Regions from separate parts of the Homo sapiens genome. Here regions 1 and 3 are each linked to region 2. The links come from fine-mapping of genetic effects on gene expression. A gene starts in region 2. Each other region holds a variant in brackets. All regions are shown on one strand. Distances are between the middles of the regions. Region 1 has its middle 360 kb from the start of RNGTT. Region 2 holds the start of RNGTT (RNA guanylyltransferase and 5'-phosphatase). Region 3 overlaps RNGTT (RNA guanylyltransferase and 5'-phosphatase).

Region 1 (2,767 bases), 360 kb before region 2:
TTCTCAGCCTCTAGAACTGTGAGAAACAAATTCATTTTCCTTATAAATTACCCTGTTTCAGGTGTTCTGTTATAAGCAACAGAAAATGGACTAAGACAGGTGCCTTGCCAATCTCAGTCCCCACTCTCCCTCACCTTTTTGGAGCCAGCTGTACTTTCTGATCTTGGGATCAGATCCCATGCACCCCGCTATCATCCCTTTCTGACTCGACTTGATTTCTTACCCAGTATGGGTTGTAAAGTTCCTCACCTTCTCAACTTTCTTCTGTTCTCACCTTGCCATTCTTCAATCCTGAGCCATCAGAACAATGCCTCTTAGTCCTTTTCATAATATGGCAAACATAGAAAACGATAATATGTGAATGCCACCCTGGGGTAAACTAAAGAATTAGGGTGTCTAAGTGAGTGTTGAGGGGAAAAGGTTCATTACATTTTCTTTACATAATTGTGATAAGACAAAGTAAAATACAAAGTCCCAGAGAAGATATGGCTTTGTAGGAAACTCTGAAATAAAACATTTTTAAAATGTTAAGTCTGAAACCTGAACTTGTGTCCATGAACATGCCTTTTTAAACATCAGGCTTAATGCTTCAAATGGCTGTCCTCAAATCCTAATCAAAACTTCTGAATCATAGTATCTTCAAATGCTTTGTAGTTACTATCAATGAGAAACCTTGCACATGTGGGTGATGAAAAAATTAAAACTATTTTTTGCAACCTTTCAAAAATATCAATGGTTGAAATTATATTTAAAGAATCTACTTTTTCTTTTTCTCATTTCTACAAATTTCTTGTGATTTCTCACTGACATTTCTTGTGATAACACAAATGGATTTCCAGTCCAACGATATTATTTACATCAATTATTTCCAAATAATGATGAGGCCCGGATGTGCAGCATGTGCATGCATTGTTCAGTCAGTCTCCCAGTAACCCAAATGAATGACACCAAAATGGTCTGTCACAGGTGAAGGCAGAGACTTGGTGCCACCCTCTAGGGCCCTTCCCAGACTCCCAGGCACCCTTTTCTGATCAGCCACACCCTGGGTCGTGTGCCCAGTAGCTCTATGAGCCCCTTGTCCAGAATGGGCAGTGTCACGCCTTGCAGCTGGCCTCGTCCAGTCTCCATGGTGGAGAACAAATGTAGACTTTATGTATCTGATGTTGGTCATTGTGCTTTTGCCTCCAGGGGCCCCGGGGTGCTCCCCGTCGGGAGCCCAGAGGCATCCCTTGGCTGTAGGTAGAGATCCTGGCCACCCCTGTGGGCTGAGAAAATCGACATCTACAACTCCCTGGCGACATGGCAGGGTGTCTCGAGACAGTGGTTGGAAAGCTCTGGCAATACTCCCACTACCCTTGGGAGTATTAATCCATCTGTTGACATAGATTTAACTCCAAACCCCATCACCTCCATTTCCTCCTATTTTCTCATTTTTCTTGTGAGGACTAAGCTCTGACTTTTTTATCTCGCCCAAATTCCTATCTAAGGGATCTAGGGAGTCATGCCCTACAAACCACAAATTCTCATCAGATGGGTTTTATCTGACTCT[A/G]TATATCATGACTTACTTACCAGTCTGACTCTGGCATAACATTATGAGACAGGGAAAAAAAATCAAAATATTCAACCCCAAAATATGTTTCCTTGCCATACCTTGAAACAGCACTGCAAAGTCTCTTGTGGGAAAGATCCACATTCTATGGAGAATCACTTTTCCCCTTTGTTTTCCTCCCTTCCCTTCCAGATCCAGGAGATAACTAAGAGCCAGGCACCGTTTTAGGTCTGATAAGAAAGATTTTACAACCTGCTGTTTCTCTGAAGTCTGCTAAGAGCTTCCTCTGCACAATAAAACTTGGTCTCCACGATCCTTTATCTTAACCTGAACATTTCCTTTCTATTGATCCCAGGTCTTCAGATAAACTCAATCAATCGTCAACCAGAAAATGTTTAAATTTACCTATAGCCTGGATGCCCCTCCCCACTTTGAGTTGTCCCGCCTTTCTGAACCAAACCAATGTATTTCTTAAATGTATTTGATTGACGTCTCATGCCTCTCTAAAATATATAAAACCAAGCTGTGCCCCAACCACCTCGGGCACATGTTCTCAGGACCTCCTAGGGCTATGTCACGGGCCATGGTCACTCATATTTGGCTCCGAATAGATCTTTAAAAATATTTTACAGAGTCTGACTCTTTTCATCAACACTCGACTTCAGCCATCCCTATCATGCTTCTGCAGGTCACCTAGAAACCAAATTCGAGGTCCTTTTCTCAGTCCTTGGCTCTCCAGGACTTCCCTGGAGCAGTCAGAACTATTTTCTGCCTCCACTATCAAAAAACTTTTGTCTTGTAGCTCTGGGGGCCGGCACCTTCTTGAGTGTCATTTTACTTCTTGACTTTAATTTCTTTTCCTTACTTCTGGATGCCTTTTCTTTGCTGGTTATATTTTTTTCTTATACCCACAGATGTGGGGGTCCCTAGTCCTCTTTTTACTTCATACCTCCTACTGACTGCTTTTACCATTGCTGTTGTGTGGACAGACTTGAAATCTTGCCAGCAGTCTGACTGCCTAAGCTCCAGTTCTAAATTCTCCCCTCGACAGTTCCATCTGATGCTCCTGAAGGCATCTCCAGTTCATCACGCTCTGAAGCCCTTTATTCCTCCCAGCCCCACATCAGCTCTTCCTTCTTACTCCCCTGTTTATGTTAAGAGCACTACCAGTTCCCTCCCTGGGCTCAAACTCTGGAAGGTAGCTTTGGCTTTTCAATT
Region 2 (2,767 bases):
AAAGCCACACACACTTCCTTCCACCCCAAGAAGAGTACTCACTATATGTTTCCATTTATTTAAAAATTTCTAGAAAATGCAAACCAATCTATAATTACAGAAAGCAGATCAGTGGCTGCCAGGCGAAGGAGGGATTTAAAAAGGGGCAAGAGGAAACTTTGAGGGGTTTCATGGTTGTTTCCTAGGAAAGAGATATATTTGTGTATATACAGTCAAAATTTATCAAACTGTACGCTTTAAAGCTTATTGTATTCAAGCTCAATAAAGATGAAAAAAACTACAAGAAAAATAATTAAAAAAAACAAAAACCCGGCCAAGCGGGGTGGCTCTCGCCTATAATCCCAACACTTTGGGAGGCCGAAGTGGGAGCATCGCTTGAGTCCACGAGTTCAAGACCAGCCTGGGCAACACAGTGAAACCCTGTCTCCACAAAAAATAAACAAAAAAATTATGGCCAGGCACAGTGGCTCACGGCTGTAATCCCAGCACTTTGGGAGGCCGAGGCGGGCGGATCACTTGAGGCCAGGCGTTGGAGACCAGCCTGGTCAACACGATGAAACCCTGTCTCTACTAAAAACAAAAATTAGCCGGGTGTGGTGGCACGCGCCTGTAATCCCAGCTACTTGGGAGGCTGAGGCAGTGAGCCGAGATCACGCCACTGCACTCCAGCCTGGACGACAGAGAGAGACTATGTCTCAAATATATACATTATAAATATATATATACTTTAATAAATAAAAAAATTAGCCGGGTGCGGTGGCAGGAGCATGTAGTCCCAGCTACTTGGGAGGCTGAGGTGGGAGGATCCCCAGCCCGAGCAAGAGACCCTGTCTCACAAGAAAATAAAAATAAAAAACTAACAAAAACACCCTCCAGATTCCCAGTCTCAATGTGACCCCATTTCACCGCTGGGAACCGCCCCTTCCCTCCTTAACCCTCCTCCATCTCAATACTGATATTCATCCCTTCTTTCGAGGGGAAGGTTGAACCCTAACAGGTTCGCAAACTACTAAGACTCAAAGTACGCCCACTGTATTCCTGGATCCTCACCTCCTGCCACCAACCTCCTGTCTACCTTCACATTCGCACAGTTAGCCTTGCAGGAATAGTAACAAGTGCCCCCCATCCGCCGACCATCCCCTCCCGTTCATGTTCCCATTCATCCACGAAGCGTAATCCGACGGAGCATATCCCGCTCCTGAAATACCACTAATGGGCACAGAACCACCAAAAGCTGAGCTCCTCAGTCGGCCCACCCCCGGGCACGTTGGAGTGTGGGGATTCGAACGCCCCCCAGTCCAGGTTACCTGCCACCGGCTGGCCGCGCCGGGGACAGTTCAGCCACCGCGGCGGGATCTTGTTGTGAGCCATGTCTTGGGGCTGCGCAGAGCTGCCCTCCCTCACCAACGTTCACCGCGCCTTTGGAGCCGCCTCCCCGTGGTCCGGTGCACACCGGGGTCCGAGACACCCGAATCGCAGCCGTAATCTGAATTCCAACCTCTCCGATCCGGGTAACGTCAGGGGCGGCGCGCCACTTTCATTCAGGATCAACTCCACAGCTCCAGGAGAACCCACAATGCACCGCAACTTCCGCCCCCGAAAGCCCCGCCCCCTTTCCGAGGTCAGAGGGAAAGAAGAGGAAGCTCAGCGGAAGGATAGCAAAGAGTTAAGGACGCGACGAATGGGAGGAGCGGGCCTTCTCTCGCCCCACTCGGCACCGCCCCGCCCCGCCCCGTCCCGCTCCACGGACGCGCCCGGACGCTACTGGTTCGCCTTTGCGCATGTGCAATTGCCCTCGTACCGAACTCCGCAGGACGAAGCGTGTATTTTTTTCCCATCCAGACAACCTAGAGAAACCCAAAAAAGAGGGAAGCCAAGCGCCTTTCCATGCGTAGATTGCCCGCCACTTCCGTTAAGGCATCTATTTTACTGATGAAAAGAGGCCTTCTGAGCGTTACCACAGCTCAAGCTTGGCGTCCCAGCCGGATCTAGGTTTGATTTGCAATTAGGGAAAGTTGTTCAAGGGAACAAGTCTTAGGAGAATTCTAAGGACATGAGATTGGAGTACCAGAAATGGGGAATTTTTCTTTTGGTGAGTACTTACGAGGATCTATGAAGCTTCTGAAATTAATTCCAGAACACTTAGAGTTTTGTTTGTACATTTCTGGATCAAAGTTTCAAAGCATACTGGGGAGTTTGAGAGGGTCCATGTCTCCAAAAAAAGTTACTAATTAATGTGGTATAATTGACAAAGGTAGGAATTGATCAGTGGAGAACCTCTTCGTGGCGTTGTTCTCCTTGGCCTACCAAATAAACAGTGCCTTTTATTTTCCCTTCGAGTTAAGCAGAGGTGCTTGAAAAATTTTTATAAATGCCGTCCTTTAACGAGCCTTTCCTTTGTTACCAGATTAAAGTGTTAAATATAAAGCTGGATGATGGCGAATCAATTATAATGTAGTTTGGCTTTAAACACCAATGCTATATTGGAACTGCAAGAACGTAAGGCTGCAGGGAATACATTTTTAAAGCGTCGGTGGGGAACTTTCTGGGACGCTCAACCCCCTGAATGCCTGGACCCCCTCAGTAAGAGTCCCATCAATAGAGGCAGTCCAACAGCAATCTCTCTGAGGCAGCCTGAGTTAGGTCACACTTCTGGTCTGTCCTGCTGTTGCATCTGCTCAGAACTGTTAGTGAAGGTGTAAACTCCTCCCCTGACAGAACAAGATAATACCCAGTTTCCTTTAAGGCCATCAGTCTACCCAAATAA
Region 3 (2,767 bases), 32 kb before region 2:
ATATACGTACATACATATATACATATACATATATGTATATACATATATACATAAACATATATACATATATACATATAAAACATGTATCTTATTATATATATTTTATATATATGTCCCTTTCTTTGTTATTAACAACTCTTCTATTTTCTGAAAATATACTGAAGCCTCAAGTTACATTTTTTGAAAAGAAACAAGGTTAAAAATAGAGACAATCTTATTAAGAAGATGGTAGTACGGGAAATTTGGCCAGACACAGTGGCTCACGCCTGTAATCTTGGCACTTTGGGAGGCCACGGCAAGAGGATCGCTTGAAAAACCATGTGTTTGGGGGGAAAAAGATTAAAAAATTAAATAAATTTTCCTCTCCTATTCTTTCAGTATCATATAAAAACAAGGTAAATTGTTTAAAAAAAAGTTTCATTTTCTGTAAAACGAACGCATATAAAATCCACACATTCATAAAAAATGTCTAAGTTCTGCCAAAAAATTAAGAACACTACAGAAGCTATATGGAAAGGAAGAAAAGAGAAGCAGACCCAGGAGCAGCAGATTTTAGGAAAATGCCAATAAAAATACATTTCCGGTAAGAAAGAGCTCACCATAAAGTGGCAGACCTATCTCTCATCTACCCAAGAGCTAAGGAGTCTGGAGAAGATGGGGCAGATTACAGGGAAGCAGAAGCAATACAAGGGGGAAAATGCAATGAAGACACACAAAAGCAGTAAAAATGACCCCATGCTGGTAAATTTCAGAAAATGTCAGCACACATTTTCCAGTTCCATAAAGAAACCATCCAAGTAAAGTAGTAAGAAGATTCCCTAAACTGAAATGCTTGGGACTTGAAGTGTTCAAGATTTCAGATTTTTCAATATTTGCATTATACTTACAGGTTGAGCAATCCTAATATGAAAATCCAAAACCTGTAATGTTCCAATAAGCATTTCCTTTGGGCATCATGTAGGTGCTAAAAAAGATTCAGATTTTATATTTTTGGATGAGGGATGCTCAACCTGTACATACTTTAATGGAATACTATAAAGCTG[TA/T]AAAAAAAAAAAAAAAAAAAAAAGAACAAGAAGTTCTATGTGCTAATATATGAAGATCTTCAGAGTATACTATTAAGCTGGAAATGCAAGTTTCAGACCAGCATATATAATGTGCTACCTTGAGTGTGCAGGGGAGAACACAGCAATCTGTATTTTTAGTTGCTTACATACACATAAAGAAATTCTGAAAGGATGTATTAAAAAATCTAAAAACAGTGGAACCTGTGTGGTATGTGGTGAGGGACTAGGCAGATAGAGAGCAAAAGTGAGAGGGAGACTTCATGATACCAACCTTTTTTTGTGGATTTTTGAAGTAAGTGAACGTATTGTCTATTTCTAAAATGACAAAAATCACTATGATTTTTAGGTACCATGTGATGCCTAAGAATCACACCTTGGGCAGTTAAATTCTAACACATAGGGTAAAAAAGTATGTACAGTCAAAATTCTCTCATAAATTCCTTAAGTAACCAATGAAGAACAGTATACATGGCCATATGCATATTACTGGAGGCTTAATCCCATCTCAATAAGTCAACCATTGTTGCGGGAAGTCAGGGACCCCTAACAGAGGGACCGGCTGAAGCCATGGCAGAAGAATATAAATTGTAAAATTCCTATGCCTGTCTTTACTTTAATCTCTTAATCCCATCATCTTCGTAAGCTGAGGATGTATGTGGCCTCAGGACCCTGTGATGATTGTGTTAACTGCACAGATTTTTCATGAAGCATGTGTGTTTGAACAGCGTGAGATCTGGGCACCTTGAAAAAAAGAACAGGATAACAGCAATGTTCAGGGAACAAGGGAGATGACCATTGGGTCTAACTGCCTGGGAGCCAGGCAGGACAGAGCCATATTTCCCTTATTGCCAAAAACAGGTAAGAGAAATATCACTGAATTCTCTCCCCAGTAAGGAATATTAATAATTAACAGCCCTGGGAAAAGAATGTATTCCCAGGAGTAGGCCTCTAAAATGGCCGCTCTAGGAGGGTCTGCAGTTGCAGATAAGGGATGAAACACACCCTAGTCTCCTGCACACCCCCAGGCTTGCTAGGATTAGGAAATTCCAGCCTGGCAAATTCTAGTCAGACCGGTTCTCTGCTCTTGAACCCTGTTAAGATGTTTATCGGTGACAACGTGTGCACAGTGGGACAGGGAACTTCCTTAGTAATTCTAGTTTCGCCCTGACCTTGTGATCTCACCCTGACCTTCTGCCTTGTGATCTTTTATTGCCCTATGAAGCATGTGATCCCTGTGACCCACACCCTATTCGTACACTCCCTCCCCTTTGAAAATCGCTAATAAAAACTTGCTGGTTTTGCGGCTCAGGGGGCATCACGGAACCTGCTGACATGTGTCTCCCCTGGACACCCAGCTTTAAAATTTCTCTCTTTTGTACTCTTTCCCTTTATTTCTCAGACCGGCCGACATTTAGGGAAAATAGAAAAGAACCTACGTTGAAATATTGGGGGCTGGTTCCCCCAACAGATTATAGCCAATTTTTCTTTCTGGATTGGAACAAAAACCATTATTACTTCTGTTGAGCTGAAGAAGTTGATTTGCATTCAGGGCCCTTCAGTATGAAAAATCTTTAAAACCTAGAATCACAATCAGCCAGCAAGATAGTCTCACTTAGAAACGCACACCTAAACTGAGGCTAAAAAAAAGTAATAGTAAATTCATACATCTTCCACCTCATTCTGAAGCATATACTCTAATATA

Evidence for each region. PIP is the estimated chance that this variant, and not a neighbour inherited with it, causes the effect.
Region 1: its variant is fine-mapped to the expression of RNGTT in whole blood (TOPMed, PIP 0.94).
Region 3: its variant is fine-mapped to the expression of RNGTT in neutrophils (Naranbhai 2015, PIP 0.95).

The regions. Positions count from the first base shown.
Region 1 is chr6:88,601,587-88,604,353 of GRCh38, forward strand. No RefSeq gene overlaps it. Among named protein-coding and RNA genes, the nearest start is that of RNGTT, 360 kb to the right of the region's middle. The variant A/G (reference allele first, on the strand shown) is at 1,550.
Region 2 is chr6:88,962,039-88,964,805 of GRCh38, forward strand. RNGTT (RNA guanylyltransferase and 5'-phosphatase) reads right to left here and starts at 1,580. Exons shown (of 16, transcript NM_003800.5): 1 at 1,308-1,580. The coding sequence starts at 1,371. RefSeq lists enhancers at 1-925, 1,280-1,659 and a silencer at 1,643-1,877.
Region 3 is chr6:88,930,144-88,932,910 of GRCh38, forward strand. The region is part of intron 2 of RNGTT (RNA guanylyltransferase and 5'-phosphatase); the gene reads right to left. Among named protein-coding and RNA genes, the nearest start is that of RNGTT, 32 kb to the right of the region's middle. The variant TA/T (reference allele first, on the strand shown) is at 1,044.